Homo sapiens: one gene and its partners. The protein of the gene in region 4 interacts with the protein of the main gene of each other region in a biochemical or structural test. Each region holds a gene or a part of one and is shown on either strand. Other genes may lie near its edges. The genes, in order: CBFB, CKB, UBE2F and CUL5.

Evidence for each region.
Region 1: the proteins of CUL5 (region 4) and CBFB form a complex in vitro, tested with the Homo sapiens proteins (4 studies listed by BioGRID).
Region 2: of the proteins of CUL5 (region 4) and CKB, one has a biochemical effect on the other in vitro, tested with the Homo sapiens proteins (one study listed by BioGRID).
Region 3: of the proteins of CUL5 (region 4) and UBE2F, one has a biochemical effect on the other in vitro, tested with the Homo sapiens proteins (2 studies listed by BioGRID).

Annotation. Positions count from the first base shown.
Region 1 is NC_000016.10:67,025,118-67,032,156, reverse strand, and holds the start of CBFB (core-binding factor subunit beta), read right to left. Parts: upstream 3,009-7,039; 5' UTR 2,750-3,008; coding exon 2,672-2,749; intron 2,431-2,671; coding exon 2,344-2,430; intron 1-2,343. UniProt on the Homo sapiens protein: Forms the heterodimeric complex core-binding factor (CBF) with RUNX family proteins (RUNX1, RUNX2, and RUNX3).
Region 2 is NC_000014.9:103,519,815-103,527,265, reverse strand, and holds the start of CKB (creatine kinase B-type), read left to right. Parts: upstream 1-4,435; 5' UTR 4,436-4,500; intron 4,501-4,760; 5' UTR 4,761-4,772; coding exon 4,773-4,965; intron 4,966-5,088; coding exon 5,089-5,243; coding exon of another isoform or gene 5,244-5,315; coding exon 5,316-5,448; intron 5,449-5,831; coding exon 5,832-6,003; intron 6,004-6,673; coding exon 6,674-6,797; intron 6,798-6,954; coding exon 6,955-7,144; intron 7,145-7,223; coding exon 7,224-7,402; 3' UTR 7,403-7,451. UniProt on the Homo sapiens protein: Reversibly catalyzes the transfer of phosphate between ATP and various phosphogens (e.g. creatine phosphate).
Region 3 is NC_000002.12:238,019,009-238,026,031, reverse strand, and holds part of UBE2F (NEDD8-conjugating enzyme UBE2F), read right to left. Parts: intron 691-7,023; coding exon 620-690; intron 1-619. UniProt on the Homo sapiens protein: Accepts the ubiquitin-like protein NEDD8 from the UBA3-NAE1 E1 complex and catalyzes its covalent attachment to other proteins. Together with the E3 ubiquitin ligase RNF7/RBX2, specifically neddylates cullin-5 (CUL5).
Region 4 is NC_000011.10:108,067,880-108,074,902, reverse strand, and holds part of CUL5 (cullin-5), read right to left. Parts: intron 4,808-7,023; coding exon 4,714-4,807; intron 2,572-4,713; coding exon 2,441-2,571; intron 1,514-2,440; coding exon 1,406-1,513; intron 1,104-1,405; coding exon of another isoform or gene 1,026-1,103; exon of another isoform or gene 837-1,025; intron 1-836. UniProt on the Homo sapiens protein: Core component of multiple cullin-5-RING E3 ubiquitin-protein ligase complexes (ECS complexes, also named CRL5 complexes), which mediate the ubiquitination and subsequent proteasomal degradation of target proteins.

The DNA of each region.
Region 1 (7,039 bases), on a different chromosome or scaffold from region 4:
TGTACTACTACTATAATATTACAGCATTTCAGATATCCTATGGGTTGAATTCATAATTCCATTCAGCAAAGTCTGAGATGACAGAAAACACCCTACTAGCTATGATTCACCAAATTTCCAAAAAAATTCAGCTTTCAAAGATAGTGATGATAATACAACACATGGGGCTGCGTATGGTGACGCCGAGCCTGTAGTCCCAGCTATTGGGAGGCTGAGGCAAGAGGATCGCTTGAGCCCAGAAGTTTGAGGCTGTAGTGCCTCATGATTGTGCCTGTGAACAGCCACTGCACCCCAGCCTAGGCCACACAGCAAGACCTCTCTCTTAAAAAAAAAAAACGAAACAAGACCAGACGCGGTGGCTCACACCTGTAATCCCAGCACTTTGGAAGGCCGAGGTGGGAGGATTACTTAAGGTCAGGAGTTCAAAACAAGCCTGGCCAAGATGGTGAAACCCCGTCTCTACTAAAAATACAAAAAAATTAGCCGGGCGTGGTGGTGTGTGCCTGTAATCCCAGCTACTCAGGAGGCTGAGGCAGGAGAATCGCTTTAACCCAGGAGGCGAAGGTTGCAGCGAGCCAAGATCATGCTGCTGTGCTTCCAGCCTGGGTAACAGAGCGAGACTCCGTCTCAAAACAAAAAAGCAAACAGTGAGAGTACAAGTACTTTGTAACTTATCTTTTATACTTGCATCCTTTACCTCCAGGAAATTCTATCGTCAGGTATACCACCTTCCCTTTGCAAAAGGTAACCCAGGCAAAGGATGACACGATCATCGCACCAGCTAATGAATTCTTTTATTATACCACTCAGTGCCAAAACCTAAAAGTATGTCTTATGCACTTCAATCATATAAATACTACAATTACTCAAGAAATTTGCAAGTGGGCTAAAAGCTTGAGACTCTCTTTCATAACATGCACTAATGACCAAATATTCAGGAGCTCCTGATAAATTTAACCAGTATCTTCTCACTATTACAACTCTAAAAAGCTTTCACTTAAAATATCAAAATATTCTTTAAAAATAAATTTGAGTTCAGTGATGTAAAGGGAGAATTTTATGACATATGAATTATATCTGAATAAAAATAAACTGGTTTTATAAAGGGGGTGGGAGAAGTAAATTTCCAATGTCTTCCTACTGTTAACCCAAATTCAAATCGCACCTAGCTTCAAGCCTCTAACAATGCAGTGAGTCCAAGTCACCGAGCAGAGAGTAACAGCATTCCATTAGACAGTGCTTCAACTTTTTAAAAAATAATCAGGCCAGACGCAGTGGCTCACGCCTGTAATCCCAGCACTCTGGGAGGTCGAGGAGGGCGGATCACTTGAGGTCAGGAGGCCAGCTTGGCCAACAAGGTGAAACCCCGTCTCTACTAAAAATGCAAAAATTAGCCGGGCGTGGTGGCAGGCACCTGTAATCCTAGCTACTCAGGAGGCTGAGGCAGGAAAATCGCTTGAACCCAGGAGGCGAAGGTTGCAGTGACCCGAGATCGAGCCACTGTACTCCAGCCTGGGCAACAGAGCAAGACTCTACCTCAAAAAAATAGTAATAATCAACCTCTTTTCTTGGTTTCTTCCTACCACTCCCTCCTCATCAGCACCTCCAACAAGGCAAACCAAAAAGATGAGAGGAACTAGGACCCTTGGATTTTTTTTTTCAACCCAAGGTCTGGTGAAGACGCACTAAATCTGCCTCCTAAAACAAGGACCTCGAGATCAACCGTGGGTTTTGCCCATCTGTGCAGTTTTTAGGAACAGCAGCCCTACTCAGGACATGGGGATAATGGTTTCTTTCTGATTCTCCTGAAGCTTAACATTCTAAGAAAATGACATTTTTAGGGCCTTTTCCCCCCCCTCCCCTCTCTATTAGAATAAATAACTGGAGGAAAGATTTCTACTCGGCGATCTGGTAGTGAGACCGCTTGACACAGAGAATTACCGACAGATCTACCTTCTAAGAAACAAACTATCGCCGACCTTGAATGAAGCTCCACTTCTTTTTCCGAATGGGGGTTTGCTTGCTACAAATACCCTGAACCCTTCTTCGGTGTCGCCGCCTAAACAATGCCCTTCGCTTGTTTAGTCTGGCTCGGGTTCGAGCTCCACTCGCGGTGCTCCGTTGGCCGACACGCGCCACCGCGGCGAGCCCCAGGAAAAGCGTCTCCCCGCGAGTACCGGCCCGCGGCATCTGGTTTCGCATTTTGAATCCCGAGTAGGAAGTGAGACGGCGCCCACTCAGTTCCGGGAGCCGCAGCAGCCGCGCCGCCGTCCGGAACCGGCCTGGGCCGCCGCGGCCCCGCGCAACAAGTGACCCGCGCGCGCCCCGGGCCAGCCGACTTACGATTTCCGAGCGGCCGTCGCGGCAGGCGTTCTGGAAGCGTGCCTGGCGTTCCTCGTGGGGCCGGTCCCTGAAGCCCGTGTACTTAATCTGCAAGGCAAGACGGCCCGAAATCAGGAGCCAAATCCGCGGCGCCGCCCGCGCGCCCGCCCTCCCAGCGCAGCGCCGATAAGGGCAAGCAGAGGCTGCGGGCGATGGCCGCCCCGGCGAGATTGCCCCTCCGCGGGCGCACCGACCGGGACTCCCGGGGACCGTGCCGCCCAAACTTTTCTCCGCCCGGGCCCACTCGGGGCGCGCTGCGGCCTCCTAGCCGCCCGCCCGCCTGCCTCACCTCACACTCGCGGCTCAGCTTCCTAAAAAACTCCTCGTTCTCGAACTTGCTTCTCTGGTCGGGCACGACGCGCGGCATCTTCCCGCCCTGAGGCCGCGCCGGCCGGCCGCGCTCGGGGCTTGCGCGGGCACCCGCTGGCTGGCTCCGCGCTGACCGACTGACCGCCCACCCGCGGCGCCCGGACGCCCGCTTCCCTTTGTTTCAGGCGCCCGCCCGCGTGGGCTCCCGTTCCGGGGAGTCTGAGGCGCCGCCGCCCGCTCGAGCCCAACCCACGCCGCCGCCGCCGCCGCCGCCGCCTCAGCCGTTGCCTGCCGCCCGCGCAGCCCCAGCGCTCACCGCCCCCGGCCGCCGCCGCCGCCGCCGCCGCCACTTCCTCTCACCGCCCACCCCGCCCCCGCCGGCCCCACCCCTCCTCCTCGCGCGCCCGCCCGCCTCCAACTCCGGCAAACAAGACGCACCATTCACAACTCCGCGGCCCACGCCGCGCATGCGCCACCCGCCCGCTGGCGGAGCGGCCTGGCTGTGGCGCCCCGGGGCTCCTTCCGCATCAGGGCCCTTTTCCCCCTGCTCGCCCGCGGCCACTCGGCGTGGAGCTGTCGTTGGGGGATCCGCCTGGCCTTTAGCAGACGGGAGTAGCCAGCGCAGGCCTTTTCTACCGCCCTTCCTCGGTCATCTGGAACTTCTGGGTTCCCCAGGTGCGCGGAGTAACCCCAGATTGTCACTTGAACGCGAGGAAACCTAAGTCCTTGGGGACTTTTCGTCCCTAAACCGACCGGCAGGGGTGTAGGCTCTGCACGTTGAAGACTGAGGTGGAAACGGACCAAAGAATCCAACCGAGTCATGGTGGAAAGGTCGTGGCTTTTGGAGTCAGATGGGTCTTAGATGGGATCCCACTCAGCTACACTACCTGCTGGCTGGGGCCTTAGATAAGAATTGGACCACTAAACCTCAGTTTCCTTATTTCCAAAATGCAGACACTCCTAGGTTTGCAGTGTTAGCGTGAGAACCTTTATGTGGGTCTAGCACACAGTGGGAGCCCAATAAATTTAAGTTTCTAAAGAAGAACAAGCTGAGTTAAGAATGTAACCGATTGCCAGTCCATATACTTACTCAATGTGCAATCAGCTGCAAAAAATAAGATCCATAAATTCTAGGGAAGTTGTTTAGCCCAAACTGGAGAAAGTCTGACATGGGATTTATGGCAGAGTTTGATTCAAAGTTAGTCCTGTGGCCGGGCACTGTAGCTCATACCCGTAATCCCAGCCCTCTTTTTTTTTTTTTTTTTTTTTTTTTTTTAAACAGAGCCTCGCTCTGTCGCCCAGGCTGGAGTGCAATGGCGCGATCTCGGCTCACTGCAACCTCCGCCTCCTGGGTTCAAGTGATTCTTCTGCCTCTGTCTCCCGAGTATTTGGAATTACAGGCACCCACCACCACGCCCAGCTAATTTTTTTGTATTTTTAGTAGAGACGGGGTTTCGCCATGTTGGTCAGGCTGGTCTCGAACTCCTGACCTCAGGTGATCTGCCCGCCTCGGCCTCCCAAAGTACTGGGATTACAGGCATGAGCCACTGCGCCTGGCCTAATCCCAGCACTTTGGGAGGCCGAGGCAGGCTGATCACCTGAGATCAGGAGCTCGAGGCCGGTCTGGTCAACATGGCAAAACCCCATCTCTACTAAAGTACAAAAATTAGCGGGGTGTGGTGGCACACGCCTGTAGTCTCAGCTACTCGGGAGGCTGAGGCAGGAGAATCGCTTGAACCTGGGAGGCGGAGGTTGTAGTGAGCCAAGACGGTGCCACTGCACTGCAGCCTGGGCCACAGAGCAAGACTCCGTCTCAAACAGCTACTCGGAAGCTGAGGCAGGAGAATTGGTTGAACCTGGGAGGCAGAGGTTGCGGTGAGCCAAGATCGTGCCATTGCACCCCAGCCTGGGGAACAAGAGCATAACTCCGTCTCGGGGGGAAAAAAAATCCATGAGGAAGCACTCTTGCTCCACAATGGGTCCAAGGAGGGCTCACAGACCTCCAAGTTGATCTTGGCCAAAGACTCTAGCAATAATTGTTTCTGCCATGGGAAATGTGGAATAAATAAAAATTGAAAGATCTCTAGAATGGCCTTGATGGCCATGAGCTTAGGCAAGGAAAAGGTCAGGGTCAAGGGAGCTAGACCTGGAGGGGTGGGAGTGCAGAGCAGGGCAGGGCGCTCTCATTGTCAGCCTCAAGGAGGGGAGGAACGATGTCCTAAGGGAAAGGGACAGCAAAGCCTGCCAAGCAGACCCAGAACAGCAGCCCCACAGACAGCCTTGGGCAACTCCAGGCCACAGGGTAACCCACACTCGTCGTAGTCTGGCATCCAACAGCCAGGATGACCGGGAAATAAGCCACAGGCTGAAGGAGGCCATCTCCTCGGCTGACCTCTATATGCCTTTTTGGTTGTTAATTTTTTTTCACTTATTTAAAAAAACAGAATTAAAGGAAATTTATAAAGGAAATTTTCACCCATGTAAGGTACACTTAAGTCTGTGCTCCTAACAGCTTTGGCAGCTGTTGAGTTGGGTATGGGTTGGCCCAGACACCATGCTATGGGTGTTTGCTAAGGGGGTTTGCTAAGATCCAGCTCTACTAAGGCCCACTCATGGAGGCTTAGAGGTGTCTTTTCTGTGCCAAGAAACATCTGCCCCCACCGTCCCAAAACCTGACTGAATTATCTGAAGTCCGGTCATCTGGAATCTTCCTTTCGTAAGGATTCAAGCCAACCAAGGGCCTCCTCTTGAGTATCTCCCTAACTTCCTAGGTGGGTGGCTGCTCCTGCAGGCTCCTAAAGCTGATCTTGGGTGGGTAAGTAGATAATACACAATGAAGCTGAGGAGAGCGCAGGAACCCTCACTTGCCTAGTGCAACTGTGAAGCTCTGTTCAGGGTGCCTTCATGCACCTTATCACAGTTAATTCACACAACCACTTTCTTTTTTTTTTTTGAGACGGAGTCTCACTCTGTTGCCCAGGCTGGAGTGCAATGGTGCAATCTCGGCTCACTGCAACCTCTGCCTCCCGGGTTTAACCGATTCTCCTGCCTCAGCTTCCTGAGTAGCTGGGATTACAGGCGCCTGCCACCACGCCCAGCTAATTTTTGTATTTTTAGTAGAGAAGGGCAGGCTAGTCTCGAACTCCCAACCTCAGGCAATCTGCCCGCCTTGGCCTCCCAAAGTGCTGGGATTACAGGCGTGAGCCACCGCGCCCGGCCCACACAACCATCTTCTAAGTCAGGTCTTCTGTCTCCTGAGAGATGAGGAAACAGACTTTGAAAAAGTAAATAAGGCCAGGAGCGATGGTTCACGTCTGTAATCCTAGCACTTTGGGAGGCTGAGGCGGGTGGATTGCCTGAGCTCAGGAGCTCGAGACCAGCCTGGGCAACACAGTGAAACCCGGTCTCCACGGAAATACAAAAAATTAGCTGTGCGTGGCAGCGTGTGCCTGTAATCCCAGCCACTCTGGAGGCTGAGACAGGAGAATCACTTGAACCCGGGAGGCAGAGGTTTCAGTGAGCCGAGATTGCACCACTGCACTCCAGCCTGGGTGACAGAGCAAGACTCTGCCTCAAAAAAAAAAAAAAAAAAGTAAAAGTAAAAAAGGACAGTGACGAGACCCTGATCCATTTGAAATAACAAAATGGGGGCTGGGCATGGTGGTGCACACCTGTAATCTCAGTAGTTTGGGAAGTGGAAGTGGGAGGATCACTTGAGGCCAGGAGTTTGAGGCCATCCTAGGCAACAGAGTGAGACCCTCCCCCGACTCTAAAGAAACTAGCTAAGCATTGGGATACATCATCTTCATTCCTTCCTCACCACAACCCTGTAAGTTTAGTATTATTGATCCTATTCTACAGATGGGCCAACGGAGATTCACAGGGGTTAAGTGACCCCAGGGTGGTGATTTTAATCATTCTACTCTGAGACCTAGTGGAGATACCAAAAGTCCTGCCTGCTGCCCTCACTGAACTGCAAACTCATAGAAGGCTATGTCTGGGGTTATTCCTCTGGGAGCACCCCACCATGTTCTAGAAGGGTCCCCACAGGTTGAAGAAAGGGGTTCTATTTTGGGCCTTGTGGCAGGATGTGGGTCTGCCCTTGAGGACTGTGCATTCCTATCTCTGAGCCTGTTTGTCCCTTCTTGGCTTGGAAGGTCAAAGTCTAGATGTCCTGCCTCTGCAGGCCCAGCAGAAAGGATGGTTTTATCCAGGTCTGGTGTCAGCAGCCACCCACCTTTGCCTCTCCTCACAGAGGAAGTCTCTGAGCCTCTGATGCATTTTTTCTAAGGAAATAGTTTCCCTTCAGTTACTGAGAAAATATTGTACCATCTTGAAGCTGAAATAG
Region 2 (7,451 bases), on a different chromosome or scaffold from region 4:
CTGTATATGCCCAGCTGTGCCATCTCATTGACTTCTCCCCAGGATCCTAGGAGGGAGGGAACACTTTACAGATGGGGAAACTGAAACTCAGAGATGTTAAATAACTTGCCTGAAGTCACAGCCAGTGAGGTCAAAGTGGGATTAGGATTTAAAGCCAATAAACCCCCAAAGCTCAGCACTGAGGAGGCTGAAGAGGGAGGACTGCTTGAGGCCAGGAGTTGGAGTTCTGCCTGGACAACATAGCAAGACCCTATCTCTTAATTAAGAATTAAAGCCAGTAAACCGGCTTCAGAGAACCAATGGCTGATTTGAAGAAAGGTGGGAACAGGCAGGAAGGATGCCCACTGGGGAGGCTGCTGTGCCCAAATCCCTGGCAGGGACCACGTGACTGCAGTCCCTCCCCTCTAAGCAGCACAGCCTCCTACCCCACTGTGCTCTGTGATCCCCAGTCAGCCCCTGTCCCTCTCCTGACCTCAGCCCGCTTCCTCTTCGGGCTCTGCAGAACTCAGGGGCAGGGCACTGGGAGGAAGCAATGCTGCCTCTGGCTGCACTCTGCAGAGGAGCAGACTACAAGGATAGAGTCCAGTGCCCTGCCTGGAGTCTGCCCTGTGCCTGACCTGCTGAGCCGGGTCATGTTCTGTGGATAAAAGACCTGGGCCTCCTTTGAAGCCCCCTCCAGGCCCAGTGGTTCACGTGTAACCAGGTGTGATTTCTGAGGAACCTGGACCAAACACTGGCCTGGTAACGTCATGCAGCCTCCTGCCTGGATGCTGCCAAAGCAGCCCCTGTGGGCCCCAGGGAGAGCAGGGGCTGTGGACAGGGGAGGTCAGCTGGAGGGGAGGCTGGCACCTTCCAAGCCCCTCTCCTTGTGCACCTGCTCTGGGGGACACTAAGGCTCCCAATCAGCCCCTGCCTGGGGGGTCTCACCCTGACATTTAGGTCTGAAGGCCTTGAGGGCCACCTCCCCACTGTTATCTGCTGCTGCTGTCCCCGTCACAGCTGCCTGGCCCCCGTACACTGTCATTTTGCCCCAGGCAGGCTCGCACAGGGCCGGCGCTCTGGGAGGGTGGAAGGATTGCTGGGCCCATGACTGGACACCTCTGTCACCCAACTTCTGATCTATCTGCACGTTGAGACCAGCCTGGCCAACACAGCAAGATCCCTGTCTCAACAGAATAAAAACAAAAATAAAATGATCTTCTGTCTGCACACTGGGGACAAAAACACCCACCTCAGAAAGCTGAGGGTTACCAGCGGCGCCAGGCCGGAGCCGCCCCAGTGCCAGGCTCACTGCTTGCCATAGGCAGCCCTGCCCTCTGGATCTCATATCTGCAGTTCTGACCTTGCCTGTGGAGGGAAAGTGTAGGGGAAAGAAAGAGATCAGACTGCTACTGTGTCTATGTAGAAAGAAGTGGACATAAGAAACTCCATTTTGTTCTGTACTAAGAAAAATTCTTCTGCCTTGAGATGCTGTTAATCTGTAACCCTAGCCCCAACCCTGTGCTCGCAGAAACATGTGCTGTGTTGACTCAAGGTTTAATGGGTTTAGGGCTGTGCAGGACGTGCTGTGTTAAAATGTGTTTGCAGGCAGTGTGCTTGGTGAAAGCCATCGCCATTCTCCAGTCTTGAGTACCCAGGGACACGATGCACTGCGGAAGGCCGCAGGGACCTCTGCCCAAGAAAGCCTGGGTGTTGTCCAAGGTTTCCCCCGACTGAGACAGCCTGAGATATGGCCTCGTGACAAGGGAAAAACCTGACCATCCCCCAGCCCAACACCCGTAAAGGGTCTGTGCTGAGGAGGATTAGTGAAAGAGGAAGGCCTCTTTGCAGTTGAGATAGGAGGAAAGCATCTATCTCCTGCTCCTCCCTGGGAATGGAATGTCTCGGTGTAAAACCCGATTGTACATTCTATTTACTGAGATACGAGAAAACTGCCTTATGGCTGGAGGTGAGACATGCTGGCGGCAATACCGCTCTTTACTGCACTGAGATGTTTGTGTAAAGTCAGACATAAATCTGGCCTACGTGCACATCCAGGCACAGCACCTTTCCTTAAACTTATTTATGACACAGAGACCTTTGCTCACATGTTTTCCTGCTGACCCTCTCCCCACCATTACCCTAAAGTCCTGCCACATCCCCCTCACTGAAATAGTAGAAATAGTGATCAATAAATACTGAAGGAACTCAGAGACCAGTGCCGGCGCGGGTCCTCCATATGCTGGCACCAGTTCCCTGGGCCCACTGTTCTTTCGCTATACTTTGTCTCTGTGTCTTATTTCTTTTCTCAGTCTCATCCCACCTGACGAGAAATAACCACAGGTGTTGGGGGGAGGGGCTGCCCCCTTCAGGAAAGGGGAAAGGGGGTCCTTTCCCATGGGGGACCTGGGAAGCAGGTTAGGCTCTCAGCCAGGAGGGTGAGAGAGGGGAGGGTTGGCCTTCTGAGAAGCTGCAGTTGCTGAAGACAGAGGAAGTCCTGAGTGTGGCCCCCAAGTCTCTCCCTCCCCCCAAGTCTGCCTCCAGGGGCTGCAGCTATCCCTTCCAGAAACAGAAACTTAAGCCCTTCAGGTTTTGTGGGGTAGCAGGTGGGCAGCTGCAGAAATTTCTAAAACTGGGCGAAGAGGCTGCACGGGGCACAGAGTGCAGGAATTCCAGGCTTAAGGGACACCTGCTGTCTGGCCAGCCCAGAGGGGCCGTTTGCCTTTTTACATGGGTTGGTTTTATTAAGTCTAAAAAATGCTGGCTTGGAACAGGACGAAGCATGCCAAGGAGCAAAGAGGCATGTGTCTCCTCTGCAGTGACCATGGGGATGAGACAGGAGAAAAGGCCCCCACACCGATGCTCACATAGGCAGAGGCGAACAGGCTTCCCCTGCCTTTGGGCCTTGGCTCTGGTGCCTTCTGCTCTGAGGCACCTATTCGGGGTCCCTTATACCTGGAACGCCACTGCTCTGTGTCCCCCTGGCCCCAGCAGCACCGATCTGATGTCATCTGGTTTGTTGGGCTGCTGGCTCATGGCCAGTCTTCTTCCAGCAGCAGGCGCTGTGTACCTCGCTGCCTGCTGTATCCCCAGCGGCTGGCACCTGTTAGGTGCTCATTGTGCCACTGCTGGAGGGATTTGTATCAAATATACCCACAGATAAGAGTTCCCCCCTTCTTTGCTTTATTCACAGAGCAACAGATGAGGGTCCCTGATGGATATTAACCCCACATCCTCCACTTCCCCCTCTTAACAGCTGCATAATATTCCACAGCAAGCAGATGCCTCCCTACCCTTGGCCACTCCCGCCTGATGGGGCATCGGGTTGTATCCAGTTATGTTTGTTTTTCCCTCCACAGATCTCTTGGTCCATTAGTGGAGAGAACTGAGACATCCTTTCTAAGGGCTGCATTCCTAGAAGGGGAGATTGCTGGGTCACGGAGTTCGAACATTGTTAACGTTAATAGATTCTGCCAAATTATCTTGCAAAAAGCATGCAGCAATTTAAGTTGCAGGCAGCGTGTGGACGCCTGTCTTCCCGCATTCCAGCTCAAAGCCAGCAATGGCTGGGGTCGATCTGGGAGTGTTGGGGGTAGGGGCAGGTGGAGTCACTGCTTAATTTGCATGATTCTGGTTATTCGTGAGATCAGTTTTTTTTTTTAATCGCACTTATGCTTATTGTTTATTAGCGTTTCCTCCCATCTTTGCCTGAAGTCTCCGGGGACTGCCTTTGGGGGTCGGGTAAACTTGTCCCCTGCGAAGAGGGCCCAGGGTTGGGGTCTGGAAACTCCGAGGCTGCACTTGCCAGCGGCCTCTTAAGGCCACAGCGTCCCCGTGGTTTCTGGCTCGCAGCCCCCCGAGACCCAGGACTTGTCCAAGGTCAGGGCACCGCGGGTGCCCCCGGGCTGGGCCGCAGCCAGACTGCGCTTCCCGCGCGCCTTCGCTTTGCACCAGGATCGCCCAGGAAACGCCTGCGGGCACCTTGAGGAAGGTCGGCGGCTCCGGGCCAGCTCGCACTGGCCGGGGGTGGGGCGGGGGCCGTACCTGCTGCGGAAGCCCCGAAAGCTTTCGCCCGGCCCCTCGCCGCCGCCGCGGGGGCTGGCTGGACTAGGCGGGCAGGCTCGAGGATGCGGATGAACCCAAGCGTCCTCGAGTGCCCGGAGGCTCTCCGCCTCAGTTTCCCGCCCAGAGGCAAGGGCGTGCGAGGGGATCCAGATATCCAAGGACCTGAGGTTTCGGCCTCGAGGTCTTGGGCGGGGGACTGGGCAGGCTGCGCGGGGTCCCAGCGAGGGGACAGCTCGGGTGGGCGGCCAGGGTGTTGGGGGCTGCGGGCGGCGGACAAAGCGGCGGCACCACCCCGCGGCGCGGGCCAATGGAATGAATGGGCTATAAATAGCCGCCAATGGGCGGCCCGCGTTGTGCCCCTTAAGAGCCGCGGGAGCGCGGAGCGGCCGCTGTTCGCCTGCGTCGCTCCGGGAGCTGCCGACGGACGGAGCGCCCCCGCCCCCGCCCGGCCGCCCGGTGAGTGGGCCCGGGGGCCGGGGGCGTCCGCGCCCGGGCTAGGGGCGCTGCGTGCAAAGGGGGCGCGTCGCCTGGAGCGCGCGCCGGACCGGCCGGGGGTCCCCGGCGATGATGGCGCTCCCCGCGCGCGCTGCGGACCCCGCTGACCTTGGCCGCGTCCCGGGGGGCGCCGGGGGGCCCGGCGGCGGGGGCCTGAGTGGTACGCGGGAGCCCGGGAACCCCGGCGTGCCGGTCCCCTCTGACCCCGCGTCTCCCCGCAGCCCGCCGCCGCCATGCCCTTCTCCAACAGCCACAACGCACTGAAGCTGCGCTTCCCGGCCGAGGACGAGTTCCCCGACCTGAGCGCCCACAACAACCACATGGCCAAGGTGCTGACCCCCGAGCTGTACGCGGAGCTGCGCGCCAAGAGCACGCCGAGCGGCTTCACGCTGGACGACGTCATCCAGACAGGCGTGGACAACCCGGGTACGCGACCCCTCGGGGCCGGGGTCCCGGCCCCCCCTCCCCCCGCGCAGCCGCAGGGTCCTCAGCAGCGCGCTCGGGCCCGGCAGTGACGTCACTGTCCCCGTCCCGCGCCCCCTCCCCCAGGCCACCCGTACATCATGACCGTGGGCTGCGTGGCGGGCGACGAGGAGTCCTACGAAGTGTTCAAGGATCTCTTCGACCCCATCATCGAGGACCGGCACGGCGGCTACAAGCCCAGCGATGAGCACAAGACCGACCTCAACCCCGACAACCTGCAGGTGCGGGGCTGCGGGCGGGCCGGGCGGGCGGGGCCGGGGTCTTCGGGCGCTCACTCCCGTCTCGCCTCCCAGGGCGGCGACGACCTGGACCCCAACTACGTGCTGAGCTCGCGGGTGCGCACGGGCCGCAGCATCCGTGGCTTCTGCCTCCCCCCGCACTGCAGCCGCGGGGAGCGCCGCGCCATCGAGAAGCTCGCGGTGGAAGGTAGGGGCCGGGCGGGCCGAGGGGCGGCGGCGGCCGCGTCCCCCTCCCGGCGCGGTCCCCGCCCGCTTTTGTTTACGTCGCCCGGGAGCGGCAGCCGCCGTCGCGCTCTTATCTGCGCGCGCCCGGGTTCAGTTTCCCGGAGGGACCGAGGGACGGAGGCCCAGCCCCGCGCCCACAGCGGCCTGGGGCCCAGGGAGGGCGGGTCCTGGCGCGGGGTCACCGCCTGGGACCGTCGCCCGGGCCGTGAGGACTGGACGCCCGCAGATCCGGGCGGGTGGGGCCCTCTGACGTCCCCCGAGGTGGGGCACGGGGGCGGGCGGGTCCGCGCTGCGGGCTGGAGGGGCGGGCGCGGGAGCCGAGCGTCCTGAGCGCACCCCTCGCAGCCCTGTCCAGCCTGGACGGCGACCTGGCGGGCCGATACTACGCGCTCAAGAGCATGACGGAGGCGGAGCAGCAGCAGCTCATCGACGACCACTTCCTCTTCGACAAGCCCGTGTCGCCCCTGCTGCTGGCCTCGGGCATGGCCCGCGACTGGCCCGACGCCCGCGGTATCTGGTGCGTGTCCCTCTGCGCCCTCTCGCGGCGTCCTCCCTCCCCGCTACCTCCGCTTTCCCTCTCGCCCCCCTCGCGGGGGTGGGGCCCCTCGCGGCGAGGAGGAGGAGGAGGAGGAGGGAGGGGCCGGCCGCGCTCCGGGTCTGGGTTCCGTGCCGCGCCTCCTCCTGCGCCGGTGACCTTGGCCGAGCAGGTGCGTTAAGGGACTGGGCCCCGGCCCGTGGGGGCTCAGGACTCAGCAACACCTCCCCACCCCGAGACGTGAGGTGGGGGCGGGGCTCTCTGGCGCCTCTCCCCGACGGCCCTGGGAGCTGGAGCTCTTTGTTTTCTTTTCTCACTCCTCCGCCGCTGGGATTCTACCAGGGGCTGGTGACGCCAAAGCTTCTCCAGGGGCAGGGCTCCTACCCCCACTGTGGGGGGCGGGTCGGGCTGTCCTGGCGGTCCCTGGCCCCGCCCCACCTCAGGCCACAGCGCATGATGGCAGCTGGGGTTCTCCTGCTGTGAGGCGTCCCGGTTCCCCCGCCCGCCCCGTGTTGGCGGGTGGAGTCTTGGCAGCAGCCTCCACTCCTGGGCATGGCAGGGAGCAGCACCTCAGGGACTTGGGAAGTTCCTTTGGTCTGGGGGCGGCCTGGGGCTTTTTTCTGGGTATGCCCTGAGACCAGCCCTCCCGCAGGCACAATGACAATAAGACCTTCCTGGTGTGGGTCAACGAGGAGGACCACCTGCGGGTCATCTCCATGCAGAAGGGGGGCAACATGAAGGAGGTGTTCACCCGCTTCTGCACCGGCCTCACCCAGGTGCCAGGGACGGGGCAGGCCCAGACCCCAGGGCCCCAGCAGGGATGTGGGTGCCCCAGCATCAGTCCCCCCGGGGGATTTCCGGCACTGGGGAGTCTCAGGGCCTGTAGGGGTTTCAGGCAGGCCTTCTCCCTCATACCCTCTTCTCCGTCTGCAGATTGAAACTCTCTTCAAGTCTAAGGACTATGAGTTCATGTGGAACCCTCACCTGGGCTACATCCTCACCTGCCCATCCAACCTGGGCACCGGGCTGCGGGCAGGTGTGCATATCAAGCTGCCCAACCTGGGCAAGCATGAGAAGTTCTCGGAGGTGCTTAAGCGGCTGCGACTTCAGAAGCGAGGCACAGGTGAGCAGGGCAGGTGCTGCGGCTTCCCGTGGCCTTTGGGCAGCCCTGTTTCCTCCGCCCTGACTTGCTGTCTCCCCAGGCGGTGTGGACACGGCTGCGGTGGGCGGGGTCTTCGACGTCTCCAACGCTGACCGCCTGGGCTTCTCAGAGGTGGAGCTGGTGCAGATGGTGGTGGACGGAGTGAAGCTGCTCATCGAGATGGAGCAGCGGCTGGAGCAGGGCCAGGCCATCGACGACCTCATGCCTGCCCAGAAATGAAGCCCGGCCCACACCCGACACCAGCCCTGCTGCTTCCTAACTTATTGCC
Region 3 (7,023 bases), on a different chromosome or scaffold from region 4:
ACTTTAAAAACCAACCAATCCACCTACACAACTTTTCCAGCAGCCTTAGGAGGAGAAATCACTGATGCCTGACGTTCTGCCCATGCCAGGGATCAGGGACACAAGTCACAGCAGGCATGAAGCTCCGAGAGGCTGCCTGCCCTAAGTGCCCTGACATCTATCAGGACCATTTTGGTAGAGAGAGGGCAGCTTAAATACAAGTGCCCAAGGTCGTCTCAAGCCTGCCATCTACATTTTTTCTCCTGGGTATCTATCATTAATCATATTTTCTCATCTTAGCTAAAATCAGCCACATGGAGGGAATGTGGTCTCTCATGTAAATAGGAGGGGAACAAGGCAAGGGACTCCAAGGGTCCATCCTGGGCAGGCAAGGAGGCTGCACTAAGAACTTAGTAGGGCTGTGGCCCCCAGAGGGCCAAGAGAAGACACTCGTCTGGAGGCAGAAGGTAGGGTAGGGTTTGGGAGCAGGCAGGCAACCGCAGCTACTTCAGCTGAGTTCAAGCCCTTCCTAATCTTGGCCATGCCTCAAAATCTTTTCAGAGGAGACAACATGTTTAAAAGCCCAACGCTTGCACATGACACTCACGAATGTAGAAGAAAGAAAAGACAATAAACTCACCTCAGACATATTTCCCCTGTCTCTGTGATGTTGGGGTGCCAGATCTTGGTCAGGCATTTCACTTTGGGAGGCTGCAACACAGAGACAATGAGAGAGATCACGCCGACAGTCTCTGCAAATCACATCTCCAGGCCAGAGCCTTACCACATCCCCTATCTAGACGCTTGTTTCATGGCTGACTCAGTGTGCAGTTTGACTCGCTGAACACGTGTTCAACCCTGAATACTGGCTCACCTCACCCATGAGGCATGTGTTGATGCGCTGCATCCACAAGGGCTAGTCTCAGCAGCAAAGTCTACCCGTGGGCTTCTGAGCACCTCTCTACAAGCCCCATGTGTCCTGCCGGCTGACAGTGCTGGTGACTGGACCTCTGTCACCTCCCACACCCCCTGGGTTTGGGACTGCAGAAGGTATCCACAGTGCACTCTAAGGAATAGTTCTACATCCTCTGGGTCCAAATCCAATCAGAAGCCCCAGATTCCTTTGCAATACAAGTTACTATGGCTGAAAGTTACTGCTCCTTGCAAGAACAGCCTGTTCCATTTGCTGGATTTTTCTGAAGATGCTATTGTCACATACGTTTTCCTAGATGAAAGCCCTAGTCCACTTTACATTTAAAGGAGAGAAAGAGAATGAAAATGAATTTGTGGGGATAAAGTATATCAACATCATTTATGACTTGGCATGTTTGGATAAAGTTCTTTTAAGATTTTTCTAGTTTGGGCATGGTGGCTCACTTTGGGAGGCCACCTAAAAGAAGAAAATATAATTAATGATAGATACCCAGGAGAAAAAAATCTCAGCACTTTGGGAGGTCGAGGTGGGAGGATTGCTTGAGGCCAAGGGTTTAAGATTAGCCAGGGCAATATAGTAAGACCCTGTCTCTCCAGGGAAAAAAAAAGAGCTGGGCATGGTAGCTCCTGCTTGTAGTCCCAGCTACTCAGGAGGCTGAGGTGGGAAAATCACTTGAGCTCAGAAGTTGTAGGCTGCAGTGAGCTATGATCGCACCATTGTACTCCAGCCTGGGTGACAGAGCGAGTCCCTGCCTCCAAACCAGAAAACCAAACCAAACCAAACCAAACAGATTTCTCTGTTACAAAGGCAATCCATACTCAGAGAGAAAAGGACAACACAAATGAAAAGAAACATACGTAAATATCTAATAAATTCTGCTGTCTTTCACTTTTGTTTTTTATGTAAGAATATATACACTCCATCAAAATGCTACCCAGAAATTATGTGACACCTGATGTACATGTGTTTATGCCTCTTTTCTAGGCCACACACATAGTGTGCATGCAGCATACTCATTTTTCTTTATAGAAGAAAGCTGTGCTACATATGTTTTAGTTATTTCTGCCATCGTTTCAGATGGCATCCTGCATTCCATGGTACACCTGCCCGAGTTTAATAGGCACTTCCCTACCTCTGGGCCCTCAGGTTGCTTCCTCTTCTCCCAACCCTGCTCTATCAATGCAGGGTTCATCCTGGGTGAAATGTTTCCTCAGGATGAAGCCCAGGAAGAGGATCTGCTGGTCATAAACCCTAGCTTCTGATACACTGCTCATGTCCTTCAGAAGATGTGACACCCCGCCCGCCAACCCCACCACAACCTGCAGTAAGGGAGAGGGCCTCTTCTCCAGGACCTCCCACAGAAAGGTCCCCTTGGTTAATATGCAGAAGTGTCAAATCACAGGATCTCATCAGAAAGGTCATCTCAAAAAGGAATCAAACCTTTGTGAAATGGGTAACATTTTCCCTGTGTATCATCTGCTATTAACTTTTATTTATGATGCTTTCTGAGGAGTTTATTTTTGTAATCAAATTTTTATCTTTGATGCCATACTTAGAAAATACTTCACCATCCAAATATCCTCTTTAACTTTCTAGTAAACTTTTATAGTTTCATCTTTTTATTTATTTGTATAAAGCAAAAATACTTTTTCGACACTATAATGAGCATTCTTCCTAATTTCAAAATACCACAAAATCAGTAGATTCCAAAAAACTGATTAAACTGACTGTGCAAATCCATGTGTCTGAGGACAAAGAATTTAGGTTCAGAATGAGTTTAAATAAATTTCACATTGTGCTTTTCTACAAATAAATGGGAATGTATTTAATAGAAAGGAGGAACTGCATCTTTCCCTTCTACTGAGGCATTTGGGCTGCAGAGGGAAGGTCAGACTGCCATGAGGGGCAGGGCTCTGTGCCCCCTTCTGGGTCACTGGATGGTGGCAGGCTAGTGCTAGGCCAAGTCACCAACTCTCAGTTTTTGTAGGAACCTAGAAAATTGGCAAACTCACTCTCCCTCCCAAGCAGGTACCCCTTCTGCGGAGGCCCTCACACATGACCATGCAGCCTGGTGCTACCACATCTCCCAAAGGCTTGCGGGTATTCGCCCTTCCTCCTGTCCCCTTCACACCTTCCATAATTTGATGTTAACACAGATACCTCCTTTTGTCAACGGTCCTCTTAACTGTGGTTCCAGAACAGAGGGCAAAACTCTGCACCTGGCTTCTGACATACATACTTTCCAAACTGAATTAGGCCTGTAGCCCCTTCCCCCCAACCCCAGTGGCCCACAGCTAGACCAACAAGCAATGCCCAGCCCTCCCACATTCCCCCTCAGTGCTTGGCACGGCCACCATCACTCACCCTGCCAGAAGCCTAATGTATGACAAATCTGGCCTCTCAAACCAACAGAGAACTGGGTTATTTGGTGGGTCACTGGCTACCCATTTGGAAAAACACAGTGTTCCAAATGCATTAAAATTAAACATAAAAGAGAATTATAGGACTAGAAGAAAATGTAGATGACCATCTTGGGGTCTGAAGGCTGCTTTAAGCATATCATAACATACAAAACTCAAGCAGTGAAACAAAAAAACCAAACTTGTATAGAACAACGACTAAAGACGGCAAATGCAAAACAAAGAAAGTATTTACAGCATAGCTAAAAAACTGAAGAAAAAAGTTTCACATACTTTGCTTGTAAGGACTCTAGTAAATCTAGAAGAAAAACAAATATCCCCAATGGAAACATGGGCAAAGGACATAATAGCAGCTCATAAAAAATATAAACAGCTTATTAGTGGGAAATACTATTCAGCATCCGACTTAAGAAATGAAAATATAATGCTTGAATCCAGGAGGTGGAGGTTACAGTGAGCTGAGACTGTGCCACCGGACTCCAGCCTGGGGGACAGAGCAAGACTCTGTCTCCAAAAAAAAAAAGAAAAGAAAAGAAAAGAAAAAGAAATGACAATCGGATATTAAACGAGATACCATTTCCTCCCAAAATGGCAACAACAACAACAAAAAGGCAAATATTCTACCTTGGTAATTGCTTAGGGAAACGGAATTTTCAAACATGGATGGTGAGGATGCCAACTGGCATTCCTCTCTGCAAGGTAATTTAATAGGATTTATCCAGAACCTTAAAATGGAGCATCAATTACTCAATACCCATAATGCCATGTCTAGGAACTGATCCAGAGGAAAGAGGCAGACAGACATAAGATGCATGCCCCAGACTTACCTCACAGCCCTATTTATTCTGGGGCAGCAGACCACAGCCTACAGACCAAATCGAGGCTGGGACTGTTTTCACATGGTCAAAGACTGGTTTTTACATTTCTAAAAGGTTATTGAAAAAACAAAAAAGAATATGGGACAGAGACTATGTGGTCCACAGAGCCTAAAATATTTATTGCTTAGCCCTTTACAGAAAGTCTGCTTTATACTGCAAAAGGTTGGTCAACCAGTGACCAATGATAAAGGACTGGTTTAAATGATACATCATACAAGGAAGTGCTCTTATTAATAATGATGCAATTGTGCATTGACTGACATGAATGTGTACGTCCATCATATTATGACGGGAAAGCCCCAAGTTACCAGACTATGTGTAGCATCGCCCCATTGGTATGTGGAATTTATACTGTCTGCAACAGACATTAGAGAGTCAGGGTGATCATCTCTGGATGGAGAGATTACAGGTTATTATTATTCTATTTTTGCATGGCCGTGTTGTCTCAATTCCCTACAAAGTCTGATAATTTCATATGAAGAAGAAGGGAGAGTGGGAGTTCAGGTGTCACTTGTGGTCGTCATCACTGCTGTTCAACAAGTGTCTCTGGCTCTCCTCCTCCAGGGCCCATGGCAGGACTGGCCTTCCTTAGTCCCTCCGGGCTGGCCATGGTCATGTTATCTGATTTGGCCAACAACATGTGAGGAGACGTGGTGTCTTCACTTCCAGGAGGAAACCAGAGCCAAGAACAAAGAGCTGTAATCCTTTCTCCTGCTACAGCACACAGCTTCCTCCAACCAGTCCTGACCGACGCACCTGAGGGCTGTGTGACACCACAGGCCAGCTAGGGTCTGGGCTAAGGCTCTCTCCTCCTCCAAGGCATCCCCAGGCCATGTCACGTGCTCCTCCTCTGGGCGTCCCCACCAGCCTGAGGAATAGCCGTCACCCACATCACCACCCGGGCTCCTCATTGTCATGTCAGCGTCTGTCTCCCCAGAGACTGAAATTCTTAAAAGGCCACCAAGTTCCCATCCTTGGCCCTCCAGTGTCTGACACGGAGCCTGGCACAATGTAGGAGCCCACTAAATGTCACTACATCCGTTTGGACAGTTTCTAAACTGACAAATTACAAGGCAGGCTTTAGGCTGGGAGTTAAACTGCAGAGGCAAAGGAACAAAAACACAAAGAAAATTTGAATTTTGGCTGCTGGGATATTGGGTGGGGTGGGGGATTCCAAATGGACATTTTTCTTTTAAAAGTTTATTCTAAAATAACGATCGACTTTATTAAAGGTTTTCCACATTCACAGTCTTAATAACAGACCTTCACTGCAGGAACTGTAACTCTTAGGAGACAAGTCCTTATGAAGTACAGAAATTGTGTCAAGTCAGTCATGGCAGTGAAGCAGATGCACCCTGAGAAGCCCCAGCCCATCCCTAGGCTCCGCACTGGCTGCTGTATCCGTTCTCACTGACCCACCTGGTGCCCTCAGAGTGTGCCCTCACACTCTATCCTGAATGCCTGTGCCTATGTGATTTTCCTATGCTGACTGAATTATTTCATCTCTTTTCTACACTAAGTTTGTAGGGGGCAGAGAGAGGGGCAACCACTGAACAATTTGTGTTTTTGCCTAGCATGGCAGGCACAAGCTACACACCGGAAATAGTGTGGGCAAGACAGCTGGCACTCCCTCAGGGCTCACAGCCCAGTGGGAAAGAGATGCTCAGGAGAGTCTGTAAGCAATGATTCATTATAAATATGGCAAATGCAACTACTTTTGTGTTCAGCCAAGTACTACACCCTAATGATCCCCTGGAGACGCCCTGCTGGGGACACCAGTGACATATGCTGGCCCCTAGAAGTTGCCCCACACTTGCCTGAATGAGAGGCAGACAGGAAGAAAACAAGAGAAGGGAACAGGAGGCTGGGTTCAGTGGCTCATGGCTGGAATCCCAGTACTATGGGAGGCCAAGGCAGCGGATCACCTGAGGTCAGGAGTTCGAGACCAACCCGGCCAACATGGTGAAACCCCGTCTCTACTAAAACTACAAAAATTAGCCGGGTGTGGTGGCAGGCACCTGTAATCCCAGCTACTCCGGAGGCTGAGGCAGGAGAATTACTTGAATCCAGGTGGCAGAGGTTGCGGTGAGCTGAGATCATGCCATTGCACTCCAGCCTGGGTGACAAGAGTGAAACTCCATCTCATTAAAAAAAAAAAAAAAAAAAGGCTGAGCACAGTGGCTCCCCAGCACTTTGGGAGGCCGTGGCGGGCAGATCACCTGAGGTCGAGAGTTTGAGACCAGCCTGACCAACATGGAGAAACTCCGTCTCTACTAAAAATACAAAATTAGCTGGGCGTGGTGGTACATGCGTGTAATCCCAGCTCCTCAGGAGGTTGAGGCAGGACAATCACTTGAACCCGCAGGCAGAGGTTGTGGTGAGCTGAAATCGTGCTAGCCTGGGCAACAGAGTGAGACTCTGTATCAAAAAAAAGGCAGGGGGGACAGGAAGGAAACGCTGGGGAAAGGAGAGGAAAGGACCCTACAGAAGCAGGGTAGGAACATGGTTCATGCAGAGCCACCAGCTGCTCTCAGTACTTCTGGGTTTGAGAACATGGGGTTTTATTCCTGATGAAATCTGACCAGCCCATCATTTATGAAACTTCCAAAAGAGACAGCAGTGGAAATAGAAAAATGTAAGATCATCGTTACAGAGCTAAAGGTCAAACACAGCACACAGAACTTCAGAAAGGCTGCATGGGAATGATGTTTCCCCACAGGGACTAGTAGTGGGGAGGGGAGAGGGGGGCTGGGGAATAGCAGGTCTGAGACAAGGACAGGAAAATTTAAGCCTTACCCCTCCACCTCAACCT
Region 4 (7,023 bases):
TTTAAGACTTCACACCACGCCCACCATGTCTATACTCCCTTAACTCCTTTCCTACTTTACCTACTTATTTGTTTTATTTTTATTTATTTATTTTTTGAGACAGAGTTTCGCTCTTGTTGCCCAGGCTGGAGTGCAATGGCACGATCTCAGCTCACCACAACCTCCACCTCCTGGGTTCAAGCAATTCTCCTGCCTCAGTCTCCTAAGTAGCTGGAATTACACGCATGTACCACCACGTCCAGCTAATTTTTCGTATTTTTAGTAGAGATGGGGTTTCTCCATGTTGATCAGGCTGATCTCGAACTCCCGACCTCAGGTGATCCACCCGCCCTGGCCTCCCAAAGTGCTGGTTACAGGCGTGAGCCACTGCACCTGGCCTATTTACTTGTTTTAAAATAGACAAAAAGAGTCTGGGCACAGTAGCTCAGGCCTGTAATCCCAGCACTTTGGGAGGCCGAGGCGGGCCCATCACCTGAGGTCAGGAGTTCGAGACCAGCCTGGCCAACACAGTGAAACCCCGTCTGTAGTAAAAATACAAAAATTAGCCGGGCATGGTGGTTGGTCCCTGTAATCCCAGCTACTCGAGAGGCTGAGGCAGGAGAATCGCTTGAACCTGGGAGGCAGAAGTTGCAGTGAGCCAAGATCATGCCATTGCACTCAAGCCTGGGCAACAAGAGCGAAACTCAGTCTCAAAAAAAAAAAAAAAAAAAAATTAAAATAGACAAAAAGAGTGAGAAAAAAATCCTACTGGAGAATGGAGAAAGTTGTCTTTTTAGAATCATTCAAACTTGGGAAGTAACGAAAGGTAGTCAAAGAAGAGAAAAAACTAACAGCAATTTCTTGTTATAGGTTTATTACACTAAAAAAGATACAATGCTAAGGACAGTATGGTGTTTTATTATCATTATCCTATACTAGTGAGGATGGAAAAAGATGGTATGCAATACAAATGCTTCCCTGGGAAACAAGGATAAGTATAACATAACTCCCGAAGGAGTCCCATGAAAGGACGGAGGATGGAGGAATCAACTCTGCTGGTGATGAGCTGTGGAGGGAGGCAGGACATCAAGGAAGCTCCAGGGGAAGTATTCTTTGAGCTGGGTCTTAATGGAAGGATGAATAGGAATTCAATAGATCAGTAATATTCAAAAACAGAAAAACATTCTTGGAAAAATGAGAAAAAAGCAACTTTCTAACTAAATTCTAATTCACAAGGCTATCTAATGTTTAACAAATGCTTACAGCCAAGACAAAACGAATATAGTTGTTCTCCACTGATGAAAAATAACAGTTGCTAGGTTTTTAAGTTTATAATTAATAGAAAAATAATGCAAATTGATTATTAGAAGTAAATTATGAGAATAAAACTTTTAAAAGTGTTTTTTATATATATAGGAATATATACCTTATCTCTTGCAGTAAGAAATCGTGGATCATCTTGAAAAGCTTCTTTGACGAGTTTACTAAATCTATTAAATAGTGTAAGTAACTGCTCAACGTATTTCTCAGAGTCCTAGAAACAAAAGGTTTTACATTAAGTTTTTAAAAGAAAAAGAATAACACAAAAAAATGAGAAAATAAACATAATTTTAATAAAACTCATTTAAAACTGGGGATATTTTTTCTTAAAAATAAAACTAAAAGGTGTTCCAATATTACTGTTTTGCCACTTCTTTTTTCTTTCTTCCTTTTTTTTTTTTTGAGACGGAGTCTCGATCTGTCGCCCAGGCTGGAGTGCAGTGGCACCTTCTCGGCTCACTGCAAGCTCCACTTCCTGGGTTCACGCCATTCTCCTGCCTCACCCTCCCAAGTAGCTGGGACTATAGGCGCCCGCCACCCCGCCTGGCTATTTTTTTTGTATTTTTAGTAGAGAGGGGTTTCACCATGTTAGCCAGGATAGTCTCGATCTCCTGACCTTGTGATCTGCCCACCTCGGCCTCCCAAAGTGCTGGGATTACAGGCGTGAGCCACCTTGCCCAGCTCCCTGTTTTACAGAGAAAATAGTAATTTCAATTACTATTTTCAATTTTCAATTCTGTATTTTTAAAAATTTAATGTTTTTATTTGTAATCAACACATAATGGTACATATTATGGGGTACAATGTTATATTTCAATGCATGTATATACTATAATGATCAAATTGGGGTAACTACTATATCCATCACTTCAAACATTTATAATTTCTTTGTGGTAACAACATAAAAAATCTCTTCTATCTTGAAATATACACTACATTGTTACTTGCTATATCCGCCCTAATGGGTAATAGAACACCAAAACTTATTCTTCCTATTGAACTATAACTTTATACCCCACTAACCAACCTCTTCTGCTCCCCCAACCCCCAGCCTCTGGTAACCGCTCACTATTTTCAATAATCCTACATTTAAAAAATAGCCTTGATATATATCTATCATTGCCATTGAAAAAAAACTTACAGTAGTAATAGTTTCAGCAGCTGCTACCATATCTGCCAGGCCAGCACTAATGATATGTTCCTCCAAGTCTTTCAACATTGGCTCTATACCATTAGGAACTTTGTCCATCAATGAAAACATTAAATGTAATTCTGGAAGGAGAGAACACATTCATGTAATCATTTCATTTACTAGAGTAAGAGTTTAGAGAAACATTAGTTAAGTTTGTAATGTTAATAGTATTCTGTGGATACAATGCCATTAGGAGTAGTTGTTCGTTTTTTTGTTGTTGTTTTTTTGTTTTTGAGACAGGGTCCCAGTCTGTCACCCAAGCTGGAGTACAGTGGCTCGATCACGGCTCACTGCAGCCTTGACCTCTTGGGCGCAAGCAATCCTCCCATCTCAGCCTCCTGAGTAGCTGGGACCACAGGCACATGTCACCATGCCTGGCTAATGTTTTTTGTAATTTTGTAGAGACAGGGTCTCCCAATGTTGCCCAAGCTGGTCTCAAACTTCGGGGCTCACACAATCCTCTCGCCTTGGTCTCTCAAAGTGCTGGGATCATAGGTATGAGCCACTGTACTTAGTCTAAAAATTATGTTTAAAAAAAAATCGAATTAAAAGTGATCAGGCTGGGTGTGGTGGTTCACGCTTGTAACTCCAGCACTTTGGGAGGCCAAGGTGGGAGGATCATTTGAGCCCAGGAGTTAAAAAGACCAGTCAGGGCAACATGGCAAAACCCATCGTTACACAAAAACAAACAAACAAAATTAGCTGGGTGTGGTGGTGCATGTCTTTGGTCCCAGATACTTGGGAGGCTGAAGTGTGAGGAATGCCTAAGCCCAGGAGGCTGAGGCTGCAGTGAGCCGTGATTGCACCATTGCACTCAGCCTGGGTGACAGGGCAAGACGGTCTCAAAAAATAAAAATAAAAAAAGTGATCAAATACTGCAAAACCCAACTCCTTTCTTTAAAAGGTCAGTCATTTGGCCAGAAGCAGTGGAGATCAGCCTGGGCAACAAGGTGGGGCTCTGCCTCTACAAAAAATACAAAAATTAGCCAGGCATGGTGGTACACGGCTGTAGTCCCAGCTACTCAGTGGGCTGGGAGGTGGGAGGATCGCTTGAGCCCAGGAGGTCAAGGCTACAGTGAATTGTGATCGTGCCATCGAATTCCAGGTTGGGCAACACAGCGAGACCCAGTCTCAAAAGAAAAGGTGAGTCATTTGGTTTTCAGTGCAAAGGAATATTTATTTACACACAAGATTAGTTTATTTCATAAGGTAGTTGTAATACTACATATACAGCCATATCATCAAAAGGTAAAAAACATGAGTAATAATTACGAAAGCAACTATATTAGAGATTAGAATATAAAACTGTATTCATAAATAATTTTTCAATTTACAAAGCACTTTTTCATGTTATGCCATTTTATTGACCTTCACAAAAACCCTACCTCACGGTACTGATTACCACTAAATAAATCCTTTTGAAAAGAGTGCAACATAGATCAGACATAACTCTAATTAGACTGGCACACAGAATACAAGTATTTTGTTTACGCCAATAAAGCAGCTTGCTTTTTACTACTGAATTACTCCTAAAAAGTGTATGAACTTAAGTGAATTGAAATATGCACTTTAAATGCAACTAGAGATTAAACAGGACCTTGCAGTTAGATATAATAAAACCTGGAAACTCAGTAGAAGTACGTTATTTAAAAAACAAAAGCAAAAAAATGTTAAAAGCAGTTTTACTGGGGTAGTAGGTATATGTACAATTTTTTTTTTTAGTTTGTTATATACTTGCTACCTCTCAAAACACATCTTTTTAAGAAAACATTGAAGTAATAAAAAAATCCTTTAGAAATCTTATAAAGTATTTTGGGGGACAGAGATGACTATTAACAGGGAGTGTTTTATTACATTCTAAAAAGATTCATCACAAGGTTCCACACAAAAGTCAAATACCTGGTTCTAATCTATAACATATGTTTCCAGTTTAAACTGGCCTTTAAAAGCAGTGTCTTGCTTTTGAGAAAAAAGTAGAAATTCACCATACACATACACAGATGTTGATAGCTAAGAGGGAAAATGCTTAAAATTTAAGTTTATATACTCTTAGCAGTGCCTCTGTGTTAAATATTTTATCTATTTCCTTAAGTATAGTTCACTCTAACAGTTCCACATATACCTATGTGGAAAAGAATTAACTAAGAGCAACTTAGTAAGTGATTTGTTTCAAAGATACCCTCTTAGAAGATTATGATAACTTTATGTGATGTTTTACCTACTTTCAGTTTCATTTCTCTTGATCATGCCTTGGCACTCAGCTAAGATAGTCTCTTTAAATGATGTCACCAGGGCATTTACACAGCATTCCATGAGCTGAAATATATCAAAAATTAGTCAAGGCTACTATAAGCTGTATAGCACAAATCTATTCTAACTCACAAAATAAAACAATATTGTTCAACAAAAAAAAAATTATACTGAAAGTAGATTTCACTTACCTTAACTATAGGATTATTGAAGATGGATATGCTATACTAGTTTACCAAAGTGTATTTTCCCCTAAGGAAAAAAACTATAGAACTAGACTCTCTTTAGAAATTTTAACAAAAGTCCTCAAGGAGGGGAGAGAAAAATATACAAAACCAAACTTTGATTAACTCTTCCTGTCTGGAGAGAACCTGTTTTAAAATTAGGTTATAAAATTCTAGAAGTGTGAATACATTCATTCAACAAACCATTATTGGATGCCTACTACGTGCAGGCACTAAGGAAGTATTTAAGAGACAAGAATAAGATATAATTCCTGCTCTCGAAGAGATCACTGTCTAATTGAGAGTGAGGAGGGCAGTAAACCTACACTGCTAACTAAATATAACTCAGTTAAGTGGCATCACACACATACACAAACACACACAAAATAAAAAAAAACTTAGAAACTACTTTTTTCTAGGGTAGTTAAAATGGCCTCATCCACAAGTTGGTATCTAAATGGGATCCTGTAAAGTAAGTACAAGCCCTAAAATAGGTTACGTATTCTAGGAATACCAGGAAGCTTAAAATGGTAGAGAAGAAACAGACAGTGGAAGAGAAGGCTAGAAAGATAGGCTGCAACCAGATTATGAATGAAAATCTATGATTTGGGGTTTTATTTCATAGGTAGGGAAGGAAGAACAAAGGAAGGTTTTTTTGTTTGTTTAAGAGACAGAGTCTTGCTCTGCTGCCCAAGCTGGAGTACAGTGGCATTACTACATAGCTACTATCATACCTCACTACAGCCTTGAACTCCTAGGCTCAAGTGATCCTCCTGCCTCAGCCTCTTGAGTAGCTAGGACTACAGGGATGTACTATCAAGTCTGGTTAATTTTTTAAACTTTTCTGTAGAGATGATGTCTTGCTATGTTCCCCAGGCTGGTCACAAACTCCTGGTCTCACATGATCCCCCTGTCAGTCTCCCAAAGTGTGGGATTACAGGTGTGAACCATCAGGCCTGGCCCCAAGGAAGTTTTAAACAGAGGATAAATGTAATGAGATTCTCCTCTCCTCAAGTCATTATTAAAGATCAGTATAATGGTAGTAAGGCAGGTGGTAAGGAGTGGGTGGTTGGGATATGGTAACGAGGCTGTTGAACTATTTCAGGTAAGATAGCAAGGGTCTAGTGCTCTAGGAGGCCATCAGGAAAATCTAAATGAGGCAGAAGATATCATGTCATCTCTGCTCCCTCGTGTCATGTAATTATTTACTTCTCTTTTGGGGATCAGATGAAATTAATAGGTTGTGAGGACTAAAGTTAAGTACAATAAGGCTGATATATTTCTTCTGAAAAACAAATCATCTATCTGTAAATTAAGGGAGGCAATTATGTGTCCCTTAAAAATTTTTTATTAAAAATTCCTTTGGAATTGACATAATGTTGGTAACTACTAAAGCTGAATTTAGGTAATGGGGATTCATTATACTGTTCTTCCTACATTGTAAAAATGCTTAAAATTTTCCGAATAAAGAATTTTCTGTGGTCCCTGCGAGTTGGGGGGCTGAGGTGGGAGGGTCAGTTAAGCTCAGGAGGTCAAGGCTGCAGTAAGCCTTGATCATGTCACTGCAGTGTAGTCTGGGCGACAGAGCAAGACTGTCACAAAACAAAACAAAACAAAACAAAAAAAAAGGTTTTTTCAGGCTCCTCTACAAGAATGATGCTGATGACTTTTAAATGCATATATCCATGTATATTTCTGTCCTAAGAAAATAATACACATGGCTGGGCGTGGTGGCTCATAGCCTATAATCCCAGCACTTTGGGAGGCTAAGGCGGGCGGATCACCTGAGGTCAGGAGTTCAAGACCAGCCTGACCAACACAGAGAAACCCCATCTCTACTAAAAATTAGCCGGGCATGGTGGGTGCCTGTAATCCCAGCTACTCGGGAGGCTGAGGCAGGAGAATTGCTTAAACCTGGGAGGCAGAGATTGCAGTGAGCCGAGATCGTGCCATTGCACTCCAGCCTGGGCAACAAGAGCAAAACTCCGTCTCAAAAAAGGAAAAAAAAAAGAAAAATAAAGAAAAGACTACACATATAAAATGGTTAAGAAACTCTTT